Linked DNA regions of Homo sapiens: all the other regions are linked to region 3. The links come from fine-mapping of genetic effects on gene expression. A gene starts in region 3. Each other region holds a variant in brackets. All regions are shown on one strand. Distances are between the middles of the regions. Region 1 overlaps HDAC4 (histone deacetylase 4). Region 2 overlaps HDAC4 (histone deacetylase 4). Region 3 holds the start of HDAC4 (histone deacetylase 4). Region 4 overlaps HDAC4 (histone deacetylase 4). Region 5 overlaps HDAC4 (histone deacetylase 4).

What was found. PIP is the estimated chance that this variant, and not a neighbour inherited with it, causes the effect.
Region 1: its variant is fine-mapped to the expression of HDAC4 in esophagus muscle (GTEx, PIP 0.97).
Region 2: its variant is fine-mapped to the expression of HDAC4 in whole blood (TOPMed, PIP 0.93).
Region 4: its variant is fine-mapped to the expression of HDAC4 in whole blood (INTERVAL, PIP 0.91).
Region 5: its variant is fine-mapped to the expression of HDAC4 in CD4 T cells (CEDAR, PIP 0.95). The same link has a PIP of 0.9 or more in NK cells, monocytes, monocytes after LPS, monocytes after interferon gamma and neutrophils.

The regions. Positions count from the first base shown.
Region 1 is chr2:239,176,889-239,181,989 of GRCh38, reverse strand. All of the region lies in intron 4 of HDAC4 (histone deacetylase 4), which reads left to right. Among named protein-coding and RNA genes, the nearest start is that of HDAC4-AS2, 14 kb to the left of the region's middle. The variant C/T (reference allele first, on the strand shown) is at 1,973.
Region 2 is chr2:239,336,478-239,341,578 of GRCh38, reverse strand. All of the region lies in intron 2 of HDAC4 (histone deacetylase 4), which reads left to right. Among named protein-coding and RNA genes, the nearest start is that of MIR2467, 13 kb to the left of the region's middle. The variant T/C (reference allele first, on the strand shown) is at 2,029.
Region 3 is chr2:239,397,821-239,402,921 of GRCh38, reverse strand. HDAC4 (histone deacetylase 4) reads left to right here and starts at 1,902. Exons shown (of 27, transcript NM_001378414.1): 1 at 1,902-1,944. It overlaps HDAC4-AS1 (HDAC4 antisense RNA 1), which reads right to left and starts at 1,486. Exons shown (of 2, transcript NR_135575.1): 1 at 1,386-1,486; 2 at 565-847. RefSeq lists an enhancer at 694-823 and silencers at 954-1,223, 1,494-1,613, 1,634-2,073, 2,084-2,253.
Region 4 is chr2:239,317,771-239,322,871 of GRCh38, reverse strand. All of the region lies in intron 2 of HDAC4 (histone deacetylase 4), which reads left to right. Among named protein-coding and RNA genes, the nearest start is that of MIR4269, 15 kb to the right of the region's middle. The variant A/G (reference allele first, on the strand shown) is at 2,330.
Region 5 is chr2:239,046,617-239,051,717 of GRCh38, reverse strand. It overlaps HDAC4 (histone deacetylase 4), which reads left to right. Exons shown (of 27, transcript NM_001378414.1): 27 at 1-3,550. Among named protein-coding and RNA genes, the nearest start is that of MIR4440, 20 kb to the left of the region's middle. The variant A/G (reference allele first, on the strand shown) is at 2,884.

The DNA.
Region 1 (5,101 bases), 220 kb after region 3:
GGTGTGCTCCAGGTAGTATCTCCCTAGCCTTGAGGGGGCCTGATTTTACCTTAGGATATTTAGTGTCTGCAGGAAGTCGGCGTCTCTAGGCGACATCTTTCAAAAGTGACGGTTTGATGACAATCAGGCCGCACGGAGGCAAGCCCAGACCAGCTCTTCTGAGTGTTCTCCCCATGCCACCTCTTCCAGTCCTCACAGGAACCCTTGGGGGCAGGTGCCACATTTAACCCAGCACGGAGAGGTTAAATATTTAGGTGCAAGTGCGCTGGCAGCAAGCAGGTGGGTGGAGCAGGTTTTATCAGCCAGGCAGCCTGGCCTGGGCACTGCCCTCCAGCCAGCGTGCTATGGGCCGCCTGTGAGTCTTCGGAGGCCAGCGCTGCCCTGATGAAGGACACGGCAAGAGCTTGCTTATGTTTATCCCACCATCCCCAAGAAGTTCATTTAAGTTGGTTGTTCGGAATTAAGTTTTTGCCATGGGAAAGATACAGGTGAGATGCTTGGTGTGTGCAGCTAGCCCTGACGGCCCTCCCTGCCCCTCCTGCGCACACGCTGCTGCCGGGCGTGGTGGGTGCCCCCTCTCCCTCGGCCCACCCAGGCCTCCTGCCTTGCCTGTGCCCACACATCTGCCAGGAGCAGCACCCCTGCTGGAAGGCAAGCCTGCATTGCACCTGCCTGGGTAGGGTCTTGCCTCAGCCCCTCCTCTCCTCCCTCCTTCCTTGGGTGTGGGCCTACCTCCTGCCACCTCTGCAGCTCTTCTATCCCCGTGCTCCTGGCTGGAATTGAGTCCCACCCCCCTTGTGAGGGCTGTAGGTGGGTGGGCGTGTTTGTGGACAGGGCTTTTCATCTGTGAGGAGAGCCGGCAGGTCCTGTCCCCAATGTCTGGATGCTGATCTGCTCTCTCTGCTGCTGTAAATCCTTGCTGTGTGTGACCACAGGTGTGACTGGGCAGACCTGCCTAGAGCCCGAGGTCCCACTGCCCTGGACTCCAAGCGATTCCTGTGGGGCTCTGCCATCCAGGCCACTTCCGCTGCCATGGGACAGTGGACGGGGAGGCTGGCTGTGGGCTGCAGGCTGCAATGACCCAGCCCAGGTGGGCCGGGAAAGACCAGCGCTGTGGTCTCCGTCCTGGAGGCTGGGGCAGCCTCAGTCCAGAGCTATCTGCTGGGGTCACTGCAATGGGGCAGGCGGTTTCTGCCTGGGGACTCTTCCTCGGGGTGGGCCATGGGGGGCAGCGGCCCAGCACACCCTTCCATCCACATGGGGCACTCATGAGGGGCAATCATGTTCATTTTGCTTGTTCACTGCCAGCGCCAGTTTGAGGTTGCCGAATGCCATTTGGTTGGCCAATGCCTGTCTCTGTCCCTTGTCTGGGCTGGGGGCTTTACTTACAGAATGGAAGAATGAGGAGTTTTACCTTACAAAATTACACAGTTGATGTTACGTTTAACATCGTGGACACAATGTGATTCAAATTTCACACAGGTCACAGACATGCGGGGTGACTGGCATGTCTCATCTTGAGTAGGAAGAGGCTGTGAGCAAGCTGAAATCCTTTCTTCCCTATTTACAAGTGGTTCTGGGTGGTCGTGGAAACCGGCTGAGTCCTCAGCAGTGGGAAGCGAGGTCCAGGAACGGGATTGATGCCCTGGTGAGGCCATTCCTCATCCCCTGCACCGCCTGTGACCATGAAAGGGCTTGGGCCAGGCTGTTTTTGCAGGCTGGATCTTCCCAGAAGCCTAGGGGTTGGAAAGGTGTGTGTGCTGGGTGCCCGGGGGCTGAGCTGGACCTCCAGGCTCTCGCAGGAGAGGGTGTGGTGGCCACCTGGAAGCTGGCTGTGCAGGGGCAGCAAGGGTGTGAAGCTTGCCAGTCGGCTCGGGCCTCTCATGTGAAGAAGGACCCAGCAAGATGCAGGAGATGTTCCCGGACACACACCGCCTGCCCCCGTCACCTTGCCAACGCCGCTGAAGGTTGG[C/T]GCCCACAGAGAAGGGCAGCGCCCTTGCACGCTCACAGTTACCTGGAGCACACATGCTCAATCCCACGCGCTCACTCACATTCAGAACGCACACTTGGGTGCACAAGCACGTTGATGTGCAGGTTCCTCCGTGCGGGCAGCCCTGTTGTCTTGGAGCAGCGAGCCCTGTAGCAGAAGGCTTGTGCCGCCTCCCACCCTGAGCACGCCGCGTGGGCTCTCAGGCTGTGGCACCTCAGGGACCCAGCCCCCCATCCCTGCTGGCCCTACTCTGTCGGGGTTGCCTCTGCCCGTCCGATGTAATCCTTTTCATCTGCTTTCCTACCCCTCAGCCACTTTTCATTTTCCTTTGTTATCACCTCTTGCTCTGAAGTGATGCGCATTTGTTGTAGAGCGGCAATCGGTCCCGACCTTTTTGGCACCAGGGACCGGTTTCGTGGAAGATGGTTTTTTCTGTGGACAGGGGTGGGGGACGCAGGAGAATGGTTTCGGGATGAAACTTCCACCACCTCAGATCATCAGGCGTTAGATTCTCATAAGGACCATGCATCCTAAATCCCCCACACGCACAGTTCACAACAGGATCACACTCCTGTGAGAATCTAATGCCACCACTGATCCAGCAGGAGCTTGAGCTCTGGCGGGAATGCTCCCTAGCCTGCCACTTACCTCCTGCTTTGTGGCCCATTTCCTAACAGGCCAGGGACTGCTGCTACCCGTCCACGGCCGGAGGTGGGGACCCCTGTCGTAGAGGGATTGAAGAATACACAGGGACGACAGTGTGACGTGGGTGGCATCCCATGGGCGCCAGTCCTGCTGTGCCAGCGCAGCCACTCATGGAGCACAGGCATCCAGTGGCTGCCTCGCACGCACACCCCACTCTATGCCTCAGGCGTCCGGTGGCTGCCTCGCACGCACTCCCCACTCTATGCCTCGGGCGTCCGGTGGCTGCCTCGCACGCACACCCCACTCTATGCCTCAGGCGTCCGGTGGCTGCCTCGCACACACACCCCACTCTATGCCTCGGGCGTCTGGTGGCTGCCTCGCACGCACTCCCCACTCTATGCCTCGGGCATCCGGTGGCTGCCTCGCACACACACCCCACTCTATGCTTTGCTCATCCTTTCCCTGGCCTGAGCCTCATCCTCCAGGAAGAATCACCAGCTGGTGGAAGCCCCACTCTGGAGCCAGCCCGGAGCCCCTGATTCACTAAATTTCCTCCACAGAAAGTTCCTCGGGCCACTCTGGTTGCCAGGATGCCTGCTTATCCCGTACCCTCTCACCGTCCCCTCTTCCTCCATAAGGGGAGCAAGACCAACAAAAAGCAACCCACCAGTGGCCGGGTGAGGCAGCTCACGCTCGTAATCCCAGAGCTTTAGGAAGCTAAGGCGGGAGGATCACGTGAGCCCAGGGGTTTGAGACCAGCCCCAGCAACAGAGCAAGATCTTGTTTCATCAAAAAAGAAGAAAACGTATCTGGGTGCAGTGGTGTGCACCTGTAGTCCCAGCTACTCAGGAGGCTGAGGTGGGAGAATGGCTTGAGCCCAGGAGTTCGAGACCAGCCTGGGCAACATAGCAAGACCCCTTCTCTACAATTTTGTTTTTTTAATTAACTGCCATCTATTTGGGAGTCTGAGGTAGGAGGATCACTTGAGCCCAGGAGCTCAAGCTTACAGTGAGCTATGATTGCGCCACTGCACTCCAGCCTGGGCAACAGAGCGAGACCCTATGTCTAAAATAAACAAGACACTGGGACAAGAGACAACTGGTAACGGAACAATCACTGGGGACAGCAGACAGACCATGACCGGGACACGTGCGGCCACAGAGGGTGGCAGAGAGGCTCTCCCAGGCAGGCAGGTGGCAGAGCTCCTCACACCTGTGGAGGCCTGGCACTTCCCCCGGGCTGGCCCAGGGGTTTGTGTGGAAGCCGAGGAAAGTGTGTGCAGACAGAACCCTGGAGCATGCGAACGAGAGCGGAGCCATCTCAGAGGAGCGGAAGGACGTGCGGGAGCCCTGGAGCCTGGGTTGGGTCCCAGGACAGAGGTGCTCTGGGTTTGCGGGAGTCCCTCTCAGGGCGTCTGGTCAGTTGCACCTTCCCACACTCGTCAGCGCCAGGCCAAATTGTTCCTTTTCACCTTTTCCGATACCGTGAGTGAAATGGGAAGTGTTCACTAGTGAGCTTGAACATTTATCCCGATTTCTTTTTAAACAGTTCTTCTGTGCATCTTGTTCTTTTCTGCCCAACGTTTTAGTGGGCTGCCTGTCATGTTCTCATTAATGGATAACAACCATTTATATAAAATTTGTATGTCATAAATACTGCAGTTTTTCTTTTACCTTCTGCCTTTTGTTATTAAGACAAACATTTTATGTCGACGTCAGTTTTTGAAATATGAGATATAATTTATACTCGGTAGAATGCCAGCCCTTAAGGGTGCTGTTGGGTGGCTGTGCCCTTCCCTGTAGACAGTCAACAGGTCGGACACTCCACCCGCTGGGGCGTTTCCTCCGGCCTCGGCACCCCCAACCCTACCTCACCCCCGCAGAGGCAGCCTTCTTCTGATTTTCATCCTTGTGCGTTAGTTTTTTCTGTTTTAGGGCTTCATGTGAATATAGTCAGCCCTCCATATTTTTGGGTTTCACCTCCACTGATTGAGCCAGCGGAGGATCAGAGCCTGGAGACACTGAGGGCCAACCACCCGTATTTCCACACCAGGCTGTGGTGGAATGTGCGGATCTGGAGCTGCAAGTGCAGAGGCTCAGCGGAGGGTCTTTCAGTCTTGCCTCTTCTCTCTGCTCTTTCACCCTCTGCCAACACCTGCTGTTTAGCAGTTCACCTGTGTTTTCTTGTGTACACGTAGGTTGTTGTTTTTTATGGTTAGGTGGTATTCTCTTTGATGAACACACATCATTTCTCCAAGTGTCCACCTTCGAGGGAACATGTGGGTTGCATCAAGGCTGGTCTGTGACCAGAGCTCCCATGCACATTCTTGTACAGGCTTTTTGTGGGTGTGCTTCCGTGTTTCGGATAAATAGCTAGGAATGGGATTGCTGGGTCTCGGGGCAGATGTGCATTTAACTTTATAAGGAAGTGCCCAGCAGTTTTCTGAAGTGGTTGTACCATTTCACG
Region 2 (5,101 bases), 61 kb after region 3:
GTTCTGAGCACACTCAGGGTTTCCATGTGTTGTCCTGAAAGCCTTTCTCACCTCTTCACATCTAGGGTAAGGCCGTATTGAGGGGAAGTTCCTCCCTCCCTGTTAGGTAGTGTGATGCAGAATTCTTGACACTCTTTGTTTTCACATGGACTGAATCCAAATCAGGTGGGGCTGATTCTTCCAGCCCTGTCTCCTCATCCCGGTCTGACACTGCACAACACAAACCTTCCTGCTGCAGGCTCACCGAGGTGCTGCCTGGCCCTGTCTTTGCCTGAACACCTGCAGTCTCAATGTGGCTGTGCGGGAGCAAAGGCGGCCTTCGCCCCACGTCTCTCTCATGTGCTTCCATAGCACTGCCTTGTTTTTGTGAAAGGATCGGGGAGGGAGGAAGGCAAGGTTAATTTTTTCTTTCTGATGTACTAGTGGATAAAAAGAGTTCTAGAACATTTGAGGAGGCCCTAGGGGAAACTGGAGACATGGAAAGCAGAGGTTTTCGTTGGTAAACCAGAGAGATGAGGAGTTTTAGTTTTTGTAGTGCCCGATGCATTGTACGTGTTGAAAGCCGAGTCCTTGATGGTAATGGTGGCTCTGATGATGGTGGAGATGGGAGGTTAGGATCCCCTTAGAGATGTTTAGTGGGTGCTGCAGTGAGCCCAGTTTTCTGAGTGACAGGGACTAGGGTGTGACTGCTGAAGAGGGGGCCAGATCTTCAGTGCCCTTTATCTCTGGTGGGCTTCTCATCCTTGGTCTTGCAGCATCAGGATGGGGCCAGGGTGCCTGGCCTGGAGGGGTGGACTTGGGCCGAGGACTGCAGGGCACAGATGTCCTCTCAGTGTGGCCCTCAGCACGGGGAGCCCTGTGGCTTTGAAGCAGATGCTTCATTCAAGGCAGGTGGTTCTTTTCTGAACACAAACATACACGTGAGCATCCCCAAAGGCTGTTTTTGAGAGATGGTGTGTGTCTCCATGTCCAGGCTGTTGTAACAGAATGATAAGGTGCAGAGGCCATCTGACAGCTGGAAGGGTACAGAGGCATCTCTAAGCAGCAGCACCGATGGAGTACCCAGCCTGGAAGTGCTGACACCCCACCATGGTCCTCCTCTGTCCCATGCAGCCCAGCCTTTAGGAGATGCACCAACAGGCATTTGGGTGGCAGACTGGAGCTCAGTGGGGCTGCCCCCACTGGGGCCCCTCTGTAGCTTCTGAGAACAGTTGAATTGTCTATCTGCCTTCACATCTATCTGTGATTTGGTTCCCTTTTGTTCTTCGCCAGTCCTCAGTAGGATTTGGTAAGACGTAATTTCTCGATGGTTCAGGAAGACGGGTGGGGCTGTGTCCATGCTTGCACAGCCTACTGTGAACAGCTGAGCTCACTGCCCTGTGACTGGCTTGGTGTAGCTGAGGCTCAGGGAAGAGCTGGGGTGTCCTGGGGTGAGGGAGCAGCAGCACCAGCAGGACCCCATGCCCCAACTGCTGCAGGGACCATCCTGGCCTGAATGTGTTAGAAACTAGGAGGGTATCTGGGGTGGGGACACATCCCACTCTTCTTGCTTTGTGTTCAGGCCCCCAGCCTCTTTCTGTCATGATGTCTTGATGTCTCCCTACTCAGCTGCTAGCACTTCTGCTGAGGGAAGCAGTCACAAAGGCCGGTGGCCCTGGCCTGAGCATGGATGTGGCTTTCTTGGTTCTTGGCTGCGGTTTCCTTGAACTCTCTGTGGTCTGCAGGACCTGATGCATGAGAATCACATGTGGGGAGGGTGTTTCTTGTGTTTATCAGTGTTTCCATTTCTTTGGAAGTTACCTGGATGCTGTTATGAGTGGATTTGGTGGACTGATTTGCATGGGTGTGGCCTCAAGGACTGCATTTTCTAAGGAGATGGTGTTTTTAATGCCTTAGCCAGGAGATTGCAGGGGGCCGCGGGCCACATGTGTGGTTCTCTGGGAAGATTCTGCTCTGGAGCTCTGCTGAGGGATGTTATTTCAAACTTCAGTACTATCTTCATGAACAAAAGAACAACGTAGGTCTCCG[T/C]TGAGTTGCTCACATCACCCGAGAGAGCATGGCTTTGGTGCTCCTCACCCATGTCCAGATCAGAGCATTTAGGCTTCACCTGGGGAATGGACAGGGGCAGGAGCTGGGAGATCACTGCCCAGGGGTGGCTCTGTGTCCGGGGTGACCTGGACTGGGCCCATTGCCTCCTGGGGCTGAGGTTGCTTCCTTTCATCGGGCCCTGTTTCTTTAGAAAGATACTGGGCTTTGACTTTTGCCTTCTGTCGGCACCTGGCCCTGCAGCTGATGGAAACTGGCAGAGCAAAGGACTTCACTGGGACAGTGAGCAGTGGGGCAGCCCTGTGTTTACAGGCAACCCCAGACCCTCTTATGACAGAAGGGGAGGGCAGGGCAGCCGGCCTTCACCTGGATAGGAACAGCAGGTGGCTGATGTATCTGAGTTGGTATATTCATTCAGAGACATTGGTTAAAATTACTTGTCAATATAACATCTTTACCATTGTTTTCTTCAAAGCCAGATTCTGTATTTTCTGATTTTATGTAAACTAAATACATAGTTTTCTTAAATACAGATGACCTCTGCCTTCACAGTTTCTTTGGATACCTTTCAAGTCAGTTTAACACACATGCTCTCCGGAAACAAAACTCAGCCACTGGGGAACCGAACCTACGCTTTTGGTAGAATCTCAGCCTTGGGGGGAGCCTGGAGGCCCTGAGCCCTGGATGACACCTGCTCTGGAATCCTCCACCAGTGGCTTTTGAAATGTGGTTGGTGGCTGAATCTCACTTCTGCCTTGGATGCTTATGGAATCTTCTGGATGGACTGAGCTCAGAATCTCATTGAATACTGTGGTCCTCTCAGTCTGAACTTTGTACCTAAAAATCCACGGGAATCTCATAGCAGCTGCTGAGGATTTGGAGAACTCCCTTAGAAAAATAAAAGGAATTTATTTTTTCCTATTTTATGTAGTGGCTATTTAAATTTTGAACATCAAATGGTAGTTTTGGATTTTAAAAGCTCAGTGTGAATAAACTTTGAGCTCAGATGCAGCCGTTCTTTTAGTGTGTCAATTTTAATAGGTGTCATTTGATGTTTGCACTAGGGGGTTGGACGAAGGTCGGTGTGAGAATCTCAGGGATAACTGGGCTGCTGCAGGGGTCAGACAAGGCCTCCTGTAATAGGGATTTTGGGGCACTGATGGAATGAAGGGAAGCGGGAGGAGAGGGTAACGAGTAGAGGCTGCCGCTGCCCCAGTTGTATTAGAGGGTGGTGAGGGACGTGGTGGATAGGAAGCTGCATGGGCCTCCAGGAACTCACTGCACTGGCTTTGAGTCGCGAGAGAGGTGCCACGGGAGGTCTAGAAACCGTGCATTTTGGGACTGAGATAAAACACGTCCAGCTGGTGGCACAGACCAAGCCAGCTGGGAGCGGAGTTGTCTCTCTGTGCTTGTCTGGAGTACCTGCCTGTGCTCTCTGAGCAGCCTCTGCACCTGGCTGGTGGGCGGGGCTGAGCCTCACCTTCAAGGCTGCAGATTCCCTGGCTTTCGGTGTGCTGGGGGATGCCTTCTGCATGGCCTGGCTTTCCTGGGATTTCCAGACCAGATCCACCTCTTTCTCCCCTTTTTCTTTGTCTTTCTGCCCCCGAAGAGATAGCAGTGTACAAAAACAAGCCAGCATTTCTTGTTCTCTTGCTATTTGTAATTGTCCCGAGCCTGGACTGGGTCCAGTCCGCTCATTTATTCTGCCAGGGCCCAGTCTGCAGATCTCAGCCGAAGCCGGTTGTCCTGCCTGGCTCGCTCTGTTCCTGGAAAGCTTTGTCACGCACAGCCAGGGGCCACTTTGGGTGCATCCTGTCTCCCCCGTCGCCGTATGTTTGGGAGCAGAAGTTGGCTCTGGTCAGATATGTGGATGTTAATTTATCCTCATTCTTGGAAGCAAGTTGGGAGCTCAGAGGAAAGGAAGAGCCACAAAATGTCAAACCCAGCAGCGGCCATCTGACTCGGTTGCTCATCGCTATAATATGTGATTAAGATGGAAGTGTTTGATTTCCTCGCTTGCCGGATTTAGGCCTCATTTTGCTTACTCCCGTGAGTCCTGATTTCTTCCTGTTAGAGAGAGGAAGTTTGCAGCGATAACCGACTTGCAGTGGGGTTTTCTGTGAATGGAGCTTGTATTGGTGCGATGTGTGGCGTGGGAGTCCCCACCGGTTAGTGGCTTATGCAGGGTGTGAGTTTCTCTCAAAGTGGACGTTTTCTGCCTTCCCGGAGCCAAAACGTTTATTTCGCCGGTGAGTACAGCTGAGTCTCACGTGCATCTGACAGCAGTGTCTCCGAGCCTTGCCATTTCCTCCACTCCCTCCCTTGGAGCCGTTTGTGTGACAACCTGCTGTTCAGTAAAACCAGTTTAGTGGAGTGGGTGTGTGTTAATTCTAGTCCATGTGTTTAAAAATCAATTCATATGATGAGAATGGCACTTTCCCCCGTGGTCTTCCTCTCAGTAACCCATAGCCCCAGTCCAACCATGGGAAAAACATCAGACAAATTCCAGTAGACACCCTTCCTACAGTCTACTCTTGCCAGGCCCACTCGATATGCCAAGGTCATCAGAAACAAGCATCCTTTGAGAAACTGTCACCACCAGGAGGGATCTCAGGACATGCGACACCTAAGTGTGATGTGGAATTCCTGGATGGGATCCTGGATGGATCTTGGAATACAGTAAAAGACATTAGTGGGAAACTTCAGGAAATCCTAAACTCTAGAATTTTAGTTAATGACAGTAATGTCAGTATTGGTTCCCAATTGTGACTAACATACCGTAGTAAGGTAGGATGCTAATAATCGCGGGGAATGTGCAGGTGGTATTGGTAGGGTATATGGCAGCTCTCTCTACTGTCTACTCAAGTTTTAATAAAATATGTCAAGAATTTTGAGTTCACAAAATGAAGTACATTTATAGATACTCTCTTTTGCTTAATGTTTGTTCATGAATGGCTGTATACTGTAGTTACTTTAGCACCTAGCTTTTACAGTTTTTCCTTTGGGGACTCTTTTTTTTATGGTTGTGCATGGATGTGGTAGAGTAACTTAACAA
Region 3 (5,101 bases):
AGGCCAAGTTTCTCTTTTCCAGACATGGCGAGTGAGGTTCTTGCACCATCCACCCAACGTCTGCGTGGTGCCTCACTCTGCTGGAGTGCCTCTCAGGACTCCTGTGAGGACTAAATGGCACGCAGCAATGGGGCTACCCATTCCTTCTAATGGAAATCTACTTTTTAAAAATTACCTCTGCAAGCATTAGATCCCAGAGCTCGTTTCACGTGACTTTTTGCGCAGGCACTTCTCTTTGTACGTGAAAAACTAACTTTGGTAGACTTACAGGCAGGTTTTAATATTTTCTCGTGATTGTATGTTTTTGAGAATCCTGTCAAATGATACTGAATCTTATCTAGATGTTAGCTAGCTACAGACCCTGTTTCATTCTACATGAAAATTAGATAGTGCACCGTTTCCATCAGCAGCCAAGTCTCCAAAACCCCGTAATTGCTCTCCTTTTCTTCAGCTGTATCTTGTTTTAAAGTTCTCTAATTCACCATTCCTTTCCTTCTAAGTTTAGCCTAAGCATTTCTTGCAATGACCAAAGTTTTCTAATTATTAATGAGATATTTAAGGAAATGTAAAATTGGCATTTTTATTTTGCTAACTGTATTTTTATCCACATAACTAGTTTCCCCCACCAAGAATCACAGGTCGAGAATGCTGTAAAAACGGATCCTTTCTCAGCTCCTAAAAGGAATGGCCTACAATCGAAGCGAACGCGCATCTCCGCCAGGTCCGCAACCACAGGCCCACGCCGTCGGGCCCCACGAACCGGCGCGCGCTGTCAAAGGCGCTTCCTCCCTGGAACGCGGGATTCCGGGGACAGTGTGTGCACTCAAGTTGAAAAGTTGTCATACTCCTGTTGGAAAGAAACGGAAACATCACCACCAGGAGGGTGGCCACTGAAGACCCTCGCCGACACCTGCTGGCAACCAAAGGCGCTTCCGGGGATCTACGGGCCGACCTGTAACTCAACACAAGCCTCCCAAGCCCTGCGGCCTTAAAACAACGCCCACCCGGGCGGTGCGCCGTTCCCGCCACCTCCACGCCTGCCTGGACCCGGACTCGAGACCCTGGCGGCGGGCCGGGCTCCCTCCGCCTGAGCAGGGACGCGGCGAGCGCATCCCACGACCCTCGGCAGCCGTTGCAGGCCTGGCGGACCTACACCCCACACCCTCACGGCCGCGTTCCCGCCGCGGGGCAGGGCGAGGCCCACGGCGCCTGCGCACTCAGTGACCGGGCCGCCCTGCGCCTCCGTGCGCACGCAGCACCACGTGACCCACTGCCAGTATCCAAGATGGACGCCGCGGCGAGGCCTGGCCGGCTCCCCGCGTTAGCCTGCACCCCATTGTGTGCCCTCTAAGCGCGAATTAGGCTCGCAGACATGCGGTGCTGACCGCTAGGCAGCCATGCGGGCTACCGAGTGCGACCGGACACGGCCGGGGCCCGTGTTTACGGCCACTACTGGCCCCCGGTCCCTGCGCCTCCTCAACCGCGAAGCACCCAGCGGCTGGCGCCTGGAGCGTCTTTTGGTACGCCCCACCCTCTAGAATTGGCAGCTCCAGCAGCCAATGAGGTCCAGGACGCGTGCGGGGAGGCGGGCAGGGGTGGAGCCTCTCTGCCGCTCATAGGGCATCCGGCCCCGCGGTTGAGCAGCCGCTGGGCGAGGGGTGGGAGCAGACGGGCTGTGCGCAGGTTTCAGCGGGCCAATGGAAGGCCGGCCAGGCGCCCGGGGCGGGCGGGCGGGAGGCGGGGCCGAGCCGTAATTGACGAGCTCTTCATTAGAAACCAGGCGGGAGGGCGGGGCCCGCAAGGGGAGGTGACGCAAGGCTGCCGCAGCCAATGGTTGGCGAGCCGCCGGCTGGCTGGGCGGGGCCGGGCCGGCTGACGGGCGTGCGGGGTGGCCTATCGCCGCCTGGCTCGACGCTGGAGTGGGGAGAAGCATCATGGTTCAACGTGGGTCAATTTTTTGTGAATGAGGAGGGGAGGTTGTGGGGCCGCCGCCGCGGAGCACCGTCCCCGCCGCCGCCCGAGCCCGAGCCCGAGCCCGCGCACCCGCCCGCGCCGCCGCCGCCGCCGCCCGAACAGCCTCCCAGCCTGGGCCCCCGGCGGCGCCGTGGCCGCGTCCCGGCTGTCGCCGCCCGAGCCCGAGCCCGCGCGCCGGCGGGTGGCGGCGCAGGCTGAGGAGATGCGGCGCGGAGCGCCGGAGCAGGGCTAGAGCCGGCCGCCGCCGCCCGCCGCGGTAAGCGCAGCCCCGGCCCGGCGCCCGCGGGCCATTGTCCGCCGCCCGCCCCGCGCCCCGCGCAGCCTGCAGGCCTTGGAGCCCGCGGCAGGTGGACGCCGCCGGTCCACACCCGCCCCGCGCGCGGCCGTGGGAGGCGGGGGCCAGCGCTGGCCGCGCGCCGTGGGACCCGCCGGTCCCCAGGGCCGCCCGGCCCCTTCTGGACCTTTCCACCCGCGCCGCGAGGCGGCTTCGCCCGCCGGGGCGGGGGCGCGGGGGTGGGCACGGCAGGCAGCGGCGCCGTCTCCCGGTGCGGGGCCCGCGCCCCCCGAGCAGGTGGGCTCCGGGCCGCCGGGAGTGAGGGCGGGGGCGGGCGGGCGCCGGGGCCGGCCGGGCGCCGTTTATGTAACTTTGTCAAATGCTGTGAGTTTGCAGAAAAACGTCCCTGCCGGGGGTCCGCGGCCCCGCGCTTGTCGTCGCCGCTGCGAGCGCCCGGGGGGTCGCGGGAGGGCGGGGGGCTGCCCGGGACCCGCTCGGCTCAGCCCGCAGGGCGCCAGCAGGCCGAGACGGGGCCCGGTCCCGCTCGGGGGTGGGATCCGCGTTTGCCGGCGTTGCGAAAACACACCACGGAATCATAAGCAAATTATCTCGTATTTACATTGAGCGTTGAATTATTTGACACTGTTATAGGAGGAGACCGTGCGTATCAGTTGGAAAGGCCGGGGGTGGAACCCAGTGTACTCATTTAATGCACATCAAAAATTTGTAATAACTTGAGGCAGCTGATATGAGTGTTTTCTTTATTGCATGTTGTAAATTGACCTGCTGTGACACAGTTTTCAAATAAAGCGTTGCAGAAATTAAACTTAAGTTATTTTAAAACTAATGACTTTCTTCACTAAATCCTAATTGCATGACTGTAGAGACCTACCTAATTGCTTGCTGAGAGCAGTTCTGCTTGCTCTCCGTGAGGGAGGAAAGGGCCTGTGCAGTCACTTTGCCGCCCCGTTTTTCTCTGTTCAGGCTTTTCTGTTTATTCCCACAAATCACCGAAGCAGTTAAGGCCTGGGAGTAAGCCTGTAAACAGTCCTGGCCCAGCGCCAGCCCAGCAGGACTGGGGGGATACTGGCAGGTTTGCACCTTGACCTGGTTTCACTTTTTCTTTTGTAATATGATCGTGGTTGCCTGGAGTTTTAATTGCTTCTGATAATTCTGTGCATTATTTTCGGGACTGTCCAAAGAAGGCTGGTGTGGTGGTTTCAGGACCTAGCCAGGAAAGGTGGTGGTGGTGGCTGGGGAGAGGGAGGGTGGAAGGGAGGGAGATCGAATTAAGAAAACTCAGCTGCTTGTACACAAATATACACTACAGCAGTTACAAAGCAACAAAAGTTATTGCAGAATTTTGCAGTAACTATGGCAACACAATTACTCTATTATAATTGGAAATGCAAAATGCCACCGAGTTAGAAGTTTCATCAGAATGGAGTTTTGGATATCAAAAATATGTGAAATTTAATTTTTTTTCAGGTAGCTCTTGTGAATTCTAAAATCTGTGTTCAATTACCTATTTTTAAGACTGATCGGGCTTTCCCAGATATTCTACTCTCTGGGATCTGTGGCATCTTTCCCCAGAAGAACTCACATTTGTGTGGGAGGGAAGTATTTTCATGCCTTAAAAACACACACCCCAACACATTGTAAGACTTCTATAGCTTTCTGTGTTCTGGGCTTTTATTTTAGAGATCAAATCCCATCCTAAAGAGAGCAGTAATCAATTAGAAAAGAAGCCGGCTGTACTCAGCAGGCAGATGTAACGCTGCCCTCTTTAGGGTTCTTTCTCCTGCAAGGGGAGCTGGCAGCAGGCATGCCCCCGGGGGAGCCCTGGGCTAAGGGGACGGGGTGGAGGGAAGATGACTGGACTGCATATGGGCCTGGAAGGCCTAGGGACGAAGGACAGATGTGGCCTCGGAGCCCTGCACCAGAGAGAATGTTCTGTGTTCAGCAGCTTCCTAGCCATGCAAAATAAAAATCCCCAAATGCCATATTCTCGGAGGCCTTGGGGGCTGTTGCTGTAGCAAGATGGACAGGACAACCTGGCACGCTGGCCACGTGCGGCTCAGGCAGCCCATCTGGACTCTGTGGCCAGAGACCTCGTTGAGAAGAATGCCCTATGGATGTTTACCAGGAGGACTCTAGTGCTGGAAGTTTCCACACATTGTGGGGTTGCTGCAGTTTAATTTTGTTATAACTCTTTCCTTTTAACTACTGCATATTTATGCCCAGTAATCGACTTCCATTCTCCAGCTTCATTGTGAGGTTTCAATGCAGCATGAATGGCTTTGAATTCCAATCCTTTAATGTTGGGGGTGGCACCAAAGGAAAGGCGACTTTATGCTGTCTTAATTGCCGGAGCAGAAGAAACATTTCATCACTCCTGTAGAATTCATCCATACCATTCTCTATTGAAAACGGCTGGGCTTTCATAGCTCAGAAGCTGCCATGAGTAATATATTAATACCTGATGTAGGGCGCGAAGGAGCCGCAGAGGCCGAGAGAACTGCCGTTGCTGAGAGGCAGCGGGGCGACAGGCTGTGGCCGGGCTTTCCTCCGAGGCTCAGAATTGATGACTAGCTGGGGATGGGGGAACTGAAGGGCGAAGGGGCCCAGTCTCCACCTAAGCTTGGGGCTGTGGAACCGAGACTGAGCCCCTGCCCTGTTGTTGGCAGCCCCCAGTCTGTCCTGGGGTAAGGAGTCGGAAAGGATGGATTTGGAGGGAGTGTTTGTTTTGATTTCAGGTGGTCAGCATATGCCCTGCCGTGTGGTGGGCTCTGGGTTTTTGGCCTTGACGTTAGAGGCGGGTACTGCACCTTCTGGTTCAGGTCAGATGAGGGG
Region 4 (5,101 bases), 80 kb after region 3:
AGGGCCACAAGAGTCTGTCCAGGTGCTGGGGCAGACATTGGTGACGTCGCTTATCGAAGCCAGGAGTGGGGCCCCGGGTGTGGGGCCGAGTGACAGACCCAGGCTACCCACACCCGGGCAGGATGAAGAGTCTCAAGAGTGCTTTCCTTAGGCTGGTTCCCGTCCACACACCAGCACTCAGCCAGTCAAGACACCTCTTGTGAGCATCTGCTACATGCCAGGCTGCTGTAAGCACTGGGGTCTACTGGTGAACCACACAGGAAAAGCCCCCACCCATTGCCACACCCAGTGCCAGTGGGAAAGTCAAACAGTAGATGGGTAAATAAACAACTACATAATGGTAAATATGGCTGGCAGTGATGGAGTCTGCCCTGCACAGGCACTTTGCTAAGTGTTTTCTACATATTTACAGCTGTGATCCCCACAACAGCCTACGGATGGGTCCTACTAACCTTACATCATCTGTATTTTACAGATGAGAAAACAGAGGCATTGAGAAAGGAAGTCACTGGCCCAAGGGGCTGTGCCAAGCAACTGACTCTTAACCAGTGAGCTTGCGCTCTGAAGTGTAAGGCTTTACTCCCCTAAACTTGTCATTGCAAGGCAGTAGAATAGGATCTGGAGACAGGGGGCCTTCACTTCAGCATCCGATTGGTTGCAGGCTGAGCTTTCACTTCAGCCCCTGATTGGTTGCAGGCCAAGTCTTCATTCGCATAGGGTGTAACTTCACTTTGGCCTCTGATTGGTCATGAGCCAAGTCTTCATTTACATAGGGTGTAACCAGTAGGAAACCTCTAAAGGGTACTTAACCCCCAGAAGATTTTGCAAGTGGGAGTCTTGAGCAGCTTGCTCTGGAGCTTGCTCCTGCTCTGTGGAGTGTACTTCCGCTTAAACAAATCTGTGCTTTCGTTGCTTCATTCTTTCATTGCTTTGTTTGTGTGTTTTGTCCAATTCTTTGTTCAACATGTCAAGAACCTGGACGACTCGCAGTGAAGACCCTCCCCCTTAACAACCGGATGTGCCATCAGGGATAGATGCTGCCCTGAGAATGATGAAGCCAGTGTCTAGGGGAAGTCCTGGTGTGGGCGGGAGCTGTGATGTTCTGTGCTCTATGGCAGGGCTTTGGAGGGCTTTGACTGGGCCAGAGCAAGTAACTATAAAATGTCAGACCTTAGAAGAAAAGCATCCTGTACTCTGACAGGAAGCAGCATGAGTTGGTTGTCACTAAAAGGAAGAACTTCTGAGAACCCCACAAAGGACCCAGTTAGGTAATTGTTGAAAGCTGCTACTCCTTCAGGGATAATGTAATATTTTTCCAACATTTACACACGTTCACCTTATTTAAGATTGGCTCAAAACACAGAAAAATGTAAGCTAACCTTTTTTTTTTTTTTTTTTTTTTTTTTTGAGACGGAGTCTTGCTCTTTCACCCAGGCTGGAGTGCAGTGGCGCTATCTCGGCTCGCTGCAAGCTCCGTCTCCCGGGTTCACACCATTGTCCTGCCTCAGCCTCCTGAGTAGCTGGGACTACAGGCGCCCGCCACCACGCCCGGCTAATTTTTTGTATTTTTAGTAGAGACGGGGTTTCACCGTGTGAGCCAGGATGGTCTCGATCTCCTGACCTCGTGATCCGCCCACCTTCACCTTCCAAAGTGCCGGGATTACAGGCGTGAGCCACTGCGCCTGGCTGCAAGCTAATCTTATGAAGCTTAGAGTATCTTGATTTTAGAACCTGCAAGAGACAATAATAAAGCAAACGTTATAAGCACATTTTGTTTGTAAACATAGGTTTAAAACCCTGAATAGAATATTGGGGAAAAGAAAATAACAGTACATTATGTAGTTATTCGTTATCAAAGGTTTTATTACAGGACAGTTGTTATACAAGGAAAGCGGTATAAATCATGTAAATATGAGAGAATGTTTTGAAAAATAAAAAAGATTAGATAAAATAATTATTTCAGTTTTCATAATTGATTTTAAAATACCCAAGTTGGAGAGAATATGTAGTTCTTACAAGTTGGGGATCATTTGAAAGCAAAAATGAATCTTTTTCATGGTTGGAAAACTCTAGAGGCCTTGTCTTAACAAGAGCTGTGTTCTGAGGTTGACCTTACGGTAGCACATGTGTTCAGTATGGCTTGAGATGTCAGCAGTTTCATTAAGATGGGAAGAACCAAAATAAATTCACATAAAAAGACTCAAAAAGATTCAGAAAATTTTATAGATTATCAGAAACCCACTAGAATCATGGATTTTGTATTTGCCAATAATTAATAGCTAGAAAAGTTCAACAGCAAAATAGTTTTGATTAAAATACATATTTTTAC[A/G]TAACAGAAGAGTCCTACCAATTTCCTTATTTCCATATTTGGCAAATTTAGATTTACCTATGTCATTTGTCACTGGTGGAGATCAGCATTCCATTCTCTATAATTCCTTCTAAATTTTTTTGTTTGTTTGATTTATCACTTTTTTTTTTTTTTTTTTTTTGAGATGAAGTCTCACTCTTGTTCCCCAGGCTGGAGTGCAATGGTGCGATCTCGACTCACTGCACCCTCCGCCTCCCAGGTTCAAGCAATTCTCCTGCCTCACCCTCCCGAGTAGCTGGGATTACAGGCGCCTCCCACCACGCCAGCTAACTTTTGTATTTTAAGTAGAGACGGGGTTTCACCATGTTGGCCAGGCTGGTCTTGAACTTCTGACCTCAGGTGATCCGCCTGCTTCGGCCTCCCAAAGTGCTGGGATTACAGGTGATTTATCACTTTCTCAGCCCGCTTAGTCATTCTGTTTTTATCCCCTCCACACGCATTTATTTTAAATTTTAATTATAAATCTCTAATTAAAGAATTAAACAATTCATAGACATTATCTGCATCATTTAAAGCAATACAATAGCAGTGACCGTGTGCTCTGTGAGACAGAGACCACTACAAGGACATTTACATGTTTGCTTTTCATTCTGCTGTTTCCAAAAAAAAGTTTTATCATACATGCACATGTTCCTAAACAATATGATTTTAGTTTTATGTTTTTGAACTTCATGTAAATAGAATTATACTATACGTTTTCTATTTCGTGGGTTCTTTTTCAGGCAGGACTGTTTTTGAGAACCAGGTTTCTGCCTGTAGCTGTCGGTGACTGGTGTTCATTAGTGTCTTGCATTCAATTTTGTGAATTTTCACAACTTTGATTCATGTTCAGATGTGGCTGCTCTCAAACATGATGTTGTGGACATTCTTTTGTGTGTTTTCTGACACACGCAAACTTGGGTCTTTGCCAGGTTCCTGCCTGGGAATGGGAGTGCCGGGTCACGGGTAAGCTACTTTTAACTCTGCGTGACCTCCAGCACGGCCACACCGTCTTAGACCTAGTGCCAGTGTCTTCAGGCTGACCAGGGCGCCTTGCTCGGTCCCGGGAGGTGGCCCTCGCCTGGCCTGTGCCTGACCGCCAGCCTGCTGTGGCTGTCAGTGTCTTCTGACATGGGTCACCCATTTTTATGTTTGTTGTTGGTTTCGTTTTCTTAATCATTTGCAGAATTGAAATATCTGGGTGTGTGTGGCTTCCTTCCAGCAGCTAACGGGAGGCTGCGGCCGTGTGCTGCCTTCATTGTCACAGCTTCCTATGGCCACTGCTCCTTAAAGTTTCCTATATGTGGATATTACTTGCTTGCTGTTTCTTGTTGAATATCAGATATTCTGGTTTTTTGCTCTTACTTTTCTTCTGGAAGTAATATCCTTTGGAAGTAATATCCTTTAGAAATTCCTGCAGAAGTTCCGTTTTTTGTTCGTCTGAGAGTTGCCTCCTTTTCCTTCATTGTTGAATGATCCCTCACAGAAGACAGTGCTGGGGAGGCAGCTGCTCTTCCCCAGGGCTCTGAGGATGTGATTGGTTCACTCAGTTCCACTGGGGCTGTTCCGTTCCTTGGCAGGAATCCGTTGTGTCTCTCTAGGTGTTTTGTAGTCTTAGTGTTCTACATTTTTGTAAGCGTTTTCACTTACCCCTGTTGATATTTTTTTGGACTTCCTGAATCTGAAGATTAGTGTCTTCCAATAATAATGGGGAATTTTATTCCTTAACTTTTTTCTTTTTAACTTTTAATTTTGCTGTAATTTCAAACTTACAGAAAATCAGCAAAAAATAGTCCAAAGAATTACTGTTTATTGATATGCATCCTTTTTTTTTTTTTCAGAATCGTTTGAAAGTTAGTGTTAGATGTGATGCCTTCCCCCAACTAATAATCCAGGCCATGTTGCCTCAGATAAGCGTGGTCACTCTTCAACTACGGTCAGTGAGTAGAGTTGGAAAATAACAGCGAGCAGGCATTGTTCTCTCATCTGTAGGCCTTGTTTATGTTTCGCTGATAGTCTAGTGATGTCTCGTTATCAACAGCAGATGACAGGCCCTGCAGGGCCTTCAATTCTCACGTCCTCCCCAGTCCCCTTTGCTCCGGGACAGTCTCCTCGTCATTTTTATGTTTCGTGACATTCACATTTTGGAAGCGTAGGGGCAGCTATTTTGTAAAATGTTTTTCAGCTTGGGATTTCGGCATGTTTCCTCGTGATTGGATTCCAGTGATGCCGCTGGGCTTGGCGGCCACCGCAGTATTTCGTTGCTGCTGATGCTGCCCGGAAGCTCTCAGTGAAGGTGATGCTGGCGGGTGTTTCCACTGTGAAGTTACATTGTTTCCTGCATAATTAGCAGGTATCTGGTAGGGAGATAATCTGGGACTGTGCAGACAGCCTGCTACTCCCCGAGCACTGACCCACAAGTCTCAGCATCATTGATGGTTCTTTGTCGGAGTCTGTTGTTGTCGTGGTGGTGGCTACTGGTCATCTAGTGTCACCGTTCTTGCTACATTCAGGACGGGAAGCCCTCATTAACCTCAGGAGGTTCTTGGAAACTGACTTTTAAGTGAAATGGTCATCTAGTGTCACCGTTCTTGCTACATTCAGGACGGGAAGCCCTCATTAACCTCAGGAGGTTCTTGGAAACTGACTTTTAAGTGAAATAATACAGAATAAAACCAAGGTTATTTTTCTCACCAGTGCACCAGTGTTATAGTCAAACGACTGGCATTGCTTGAGGACCCTCTGTCGTTGGCT
Region 5 (5,101 bases), 350 kb after region 3:
ATCGCCAACACATTCGCCACTGGGCAACTACCCTACAAGTTTGTACTTTCATTTTAATTATTTTCTAACAGAACCGCTCCCGTCTCCAAGCCTTCATGCACATATGTACCTAATGAGTTTTTATAGCAAAGAATATAAATTTGCTGTTGATTTTTGTATGAATTTTTTCACAAAAAGATCCTGAATAAGCATTGTTTTATGAATTTTACATTTTTCCTCACCATTTAGCAATTTTCTGAATGGTAATAATGTCTAAATCTTTTTCCTTTCTGAATTCTTGCTTGTACATTTTTTTTTACCTTTCAAAGGTTTTTAATTATTTTTGTTTTTATTTTTGTACGATGAGTTTTCTGCAGCGTACAGAATTGTTGCTGTCAGATTCTATTTTCAGAAAGTGAGAGGAGGGACCGTAGGTCTTTTCGGAGTGACACCAACGATTGTGTCTTTCCTGGTCTGTCCTAGGAGCTGTATAAAGAAGCCCAGGGGCTCTTTTTAACTTTCAACACTAGTAGTATTACGAGGGGTGGTGTGTTTTTCCCCTCCGTGGCAAGGGCAGGGAGGGTTGCTTAGGATGCCCGGCCACCCTGGGAGGCTTGCCAGATGCCGGGGGCAGTCAGCATTAATGAAACTCATGTTTAAACTTCTCTGACCACATCGTCAGGATAGAATTCTAACTTGAGTTTTCCAAAGACCTTTTGAGCATGTCAGCAATGCATGGGGCACACGTGGGGCTCTTTACCCACTTGGGTTTTTCCACTGCAGCCACGTGGCCAGCCCTGGATTTTGGAGCCTGTGGCTGCAAGGAACCCAGGGACCCTTGTTGCCTGGTGAACCTGCAGGGAGGGTATGATTGCCTGACCAGGACAGCCAGTCTTTACTCTTTTTCTCTTCAACAGTAACTGACAGTCACGTTTTACTGGTAACTTATTTTCCAGCACATGAAGCCACCAGTTTCATTCCAAAGTGTATATTGGGTTCAGACTTGGGGGCAGAAGTTCAGACACACCGTGCTCAGGAGGGACCCAGAGCCGAGTTTCGGAGTTTGGTAAAGTTTACAGGGTAGCTTCTGAAATTAACTCAAACTTTTGACCAAATGAGTGCAGATTCTTGGATTCACTTGGTCACTGGGCTGCTGATGGTCAGCTCTGAGACAGTGGTTTGAGAGCAGGCAGAACGGTCTTGGGACTTGTTTGACTTTCCCCTCCCTGGTGGCCACTCTTTGCTCTGAAGCCCAGATTGGCAAGAGGAGCTGGTCCATTCCCCATTCATGGCACAGAGCAGTGGCAGGGCCCAGCTAGCAGGCTCTTCTGGCCTCCTTGGCCTCATTCTCTGCATAGCCCTCTGGGGATCCTGCCACCTGCCCTCTTACCCCGCCGTGGCTTATGGGGAGGAATGCATCATCTCACTTTTTTTTTTTAAGCAGATGATGGGATAACATGGACTGCTCAGTGGCCAGGTTATCAGTGGGGGGACTTAATTCTAATCTCATTCAAATGGAGACGCCCTCTGCAAAGGCCTGGCAGGGGGAGGCACGTTTCATCTGTCAGCTCACTCCAGCTTCACAAATGTGCTGAGAGCATTACTGTGTAGCCTTTTCTTTGAAGACACACTCGGCTCTTCTCCACAGCAAGCGTCCAGGGCAGATGGCAGAGGATCTGCCTCGGCGTCTGCAGGCGGGACCACGTCAGGGAGGGTTCCTTCATGTGTTCTCCCTGTGGGTCCTTGGACCTTTAGCCTTTTTCTTCCTTTGCAAAGGCCTTGGGGGCACTGGCTGGGAGTCAGCAAGCGAGCACTTTATATCCCTTTGAGGGAAACCCTGATGACGCCACTGGGCCTCTTGGCGTCTGCCCTGCCCTCGCGGCTTCCCGCCGTGCCGCAGCGTGCCCACGTGCCCACGCCCCACCAGCAGGCGGCTGTCCCGGAGGCCGTGGCCCGCTGGGACTGGCCGCCCCTCCCCAGCGTCCCAGGGCTCTGGTTCTGGAGGGCCACTTTGTCAAGGTGTTTCAGTTTTTCTTTACTTCTTTTGAAAATCTGTTTGCAAGGGGAAGGACCATTTCGTAATGGTCTGACACAAAAGCAAGTTTGATTTTTGCAGCACTAGCAATGGACTTTGTTGTTTTTCTTTTTGATCAGAACATTCCTTCTTTACTGGTCACAGCCACGTGCTCATTCCATTCTTCTTTTTGTAGACTTTGGGCCCACGTGTTTTATGGGCATTGATACATATATAAATATATAGATATAAATATATATGAATATATTTTTTTAAGTTTCCTACACCTGGAGGTTGCATGGACTGTACGACCGGCATGACTTTATATTGTATACAGATTTTGCACGCCAAACTCGGCAGCTTTGGGGAAGAAGAAAAATGCCTTTCTGTTCCCCTCTCATGACATTTGCAGATACAAAAGATGGAAATTTTTCTGTAAAACAAAACCTTGAAGGAGAGGAGGGCGGGGAAGTTTGCGTCTTATTGAACTTATTCTTAAGAAATTGTACTTTTTATTGTAAGAAAAATAAAAAGGACTACTTAAACATTTGTCATATTAAGAAAAAAAGTTTATCTAGCACTTGTGACATACCAATAATAGAGTTTATTGTATTTATGTGGAAACAGTGTTTTAGGGAAACTACTCAGAATTCACAGTGAACTGCCTGTCTCTCTCGAGTTGATTTGGAGGAATTTTGTTTTGTTTTGTTTTGTTTGTTTCCTTTTATCTCCTTCCACGGGCCAGGCGAGCGCCGCCCGCCCTCACTGGCCTTGTGACGGTTTATTCTGATTGAGAACTGGGCGGACTCGAAAGAGTCCCCTTTTCCGCACAGCTGTGTTGACTTTTTAATTACTTTTAGGTGATGTATGGCTAAGATTTCACTTTAAGC[A/G]GTCGTGAACTGTGCGAGCACTGTGGTTTACAATTATACTTTGCATCGAAAGGAAACCATTTCTTCATTGTAACGAAGCTGAGCGTGTTCTTAGCTCGGCCTCACTTTGTCTCTGGCATTGATTAAAAGTCTGCTATTGAAAGAAAAAGAAAGCGAACAGTTTTTGTTTGTTTTTTTTGCCGTGTGTGCTCCATAGTGGAGGCGCTATTTTCCAATTGATGAGAATGACAAACATATATAATCTATCTATCTATCTATCTATCTATCTATCTATACAGGGGGCTTGAACCTTACTCACCCAAGAGCTTCTTACGGAATGTGGTAGAAAACCAAGTTGTAACGACACTGTAACCTACCTGATGCCTGTTCGCGCCCGCCGTGAGCTGCGCACTGGCCGTGGCCACCATTCACCTCTGTAATTTAATCCGTTTCTCTTGGATTGTCTGGACGTGCCCGATGGTTCTTTCTTTTGCTCAGTGGAGTTGGAGGTTTTGTGTTTGGTTTTCTCATTCTTGTCTTGTTTTGTGTGGGTGGATTTTCACCGACCAATGATATCCTCTTCTGACGGTCACCTTCTTTCCACTTCACTGGAGTCCAGTATTCTGTACCACATCACGCAACGTGTTATCTTGTGGTGTAAATAAAGACTGCGTTACTTGCCCTCCCAGCTCTGGTTTCTGCCCGTGCGCTCTCTTCCTCATTGGCTCTCGCATGTCTGGGACCCTGTGGGCCGAATGGCCAGTGCCCTGGGTCCCATCCGGATGGCTGCATGGGAATCACTGGACCCCATGGGGACGGCCCCTAGACCCAGACCAGCGGCAGGCCCGTCCCCCTCTGCCTGCATAATCAGGTCCCATAGGAGTGTCTTCATTTTAAATGTCCAGTAATTTAAATCTTTACATTATCTTCTCCCCCAAAACACTTACCAAGCCATAGAGAGCTGGAAATAATCTTGGAGAGAACAAGGCCAAAGAGAGAGGCCCAGGGCCCAGGCTTAGCCACCTGCCCACAGCCGGGCAAACACACCTCTGAGACTGGAGTCCAAACACCAGCCACAGCTCCTGACCCTCAGCAGCGCCCCTTCCCAGGCTCCCGCATCCAGTGACTAATCAGTTGGGTGCCGGGCAGCGTAAGCACCAGGCCACCTTGGCCCAACTTAGGACAACTCAAGGCCTGCTGGCTTCCCGGAAAGTGCCTGAGCCCCTCCCTAGGCTGACTGCCTTCCCTCCTCCCCTGTCACAGCTGCCAACCCAAGGACACCTCAACCACCTTGCACACTGAAGCCCACCCAGTCTGCATCCCAGAAACCCAGCCCACGGCACCCAGGTTGCCCTTGAGCCCCCGAAAGAGGCCTCTGGAGCAGAGGGCCCTGCTGGCCCCAAGGCATAGCCCTGTGGCAAGGGGGGCTCAGTCGGCCCCAGTATAAGAAGAGGTACTTGGAGCCTGAAGCCACTGAGGCTGGAGTGGTTTTGTTATTGTTACTGATTCAGTTGGCATGTTTACTGGTTATAGTATATTAGTTATCTATTGCTTGCAACAGATTCCCTCAAAACTTAGCAGCTTCAAATAGCAGACATTTATTACCTTGGAGTTTCTGAAGGTCCGGAGTCTGGGTGCATCTCAGCAGGGTCCCTGTCTCGTCTTCCCTGGGGGTCCAGTCAAATGCTCAGCCAGGGTTCCTCTGGGGGCCCAGCTGCTGGGGGACCAGGCTGGGGGTTGGCCTCCAGGCACATGCCTGTGGCTGTAGGTGGCCACCTTCCCTCGCCTGATGGGCCTCTCCACAGGGCCGCCTCGAGGCCTTGCCGTCAGCGTCTCCCACAGCACGTGATCTAGGAGCAAGTGGAGAATGCACCAGGAGACACAGCCAGTCTTTTTATAGCCTCATCTCCATGGGCATAGAAGCCAGTGCAGGAGGCCAGCCCACACTCACGGGAGAGGCTTCCTCTGCTCAAGGCCCAAGGACCCTCAGGCTCAGATCCTGCAGCGCCTCCCTGGGTTTGTCCATCTCATGTGCTAGAGTAGAAAGTTGGAAGCTGGTCTACTCCTCTAGCCCAAGAGATGAAGACATCATTGCTCCCCAATAAGCAGATGGAATGAAGGATTCCTGGGTTGTCTTCTCCGCCCATTTGTTCTCCGCCCATTTGTTTCATTACTGGGGCTGTGAACTAGAAAGCTTTAAAATCTATTTTGGGATGCTAATCCTTTATCCACCATAAAT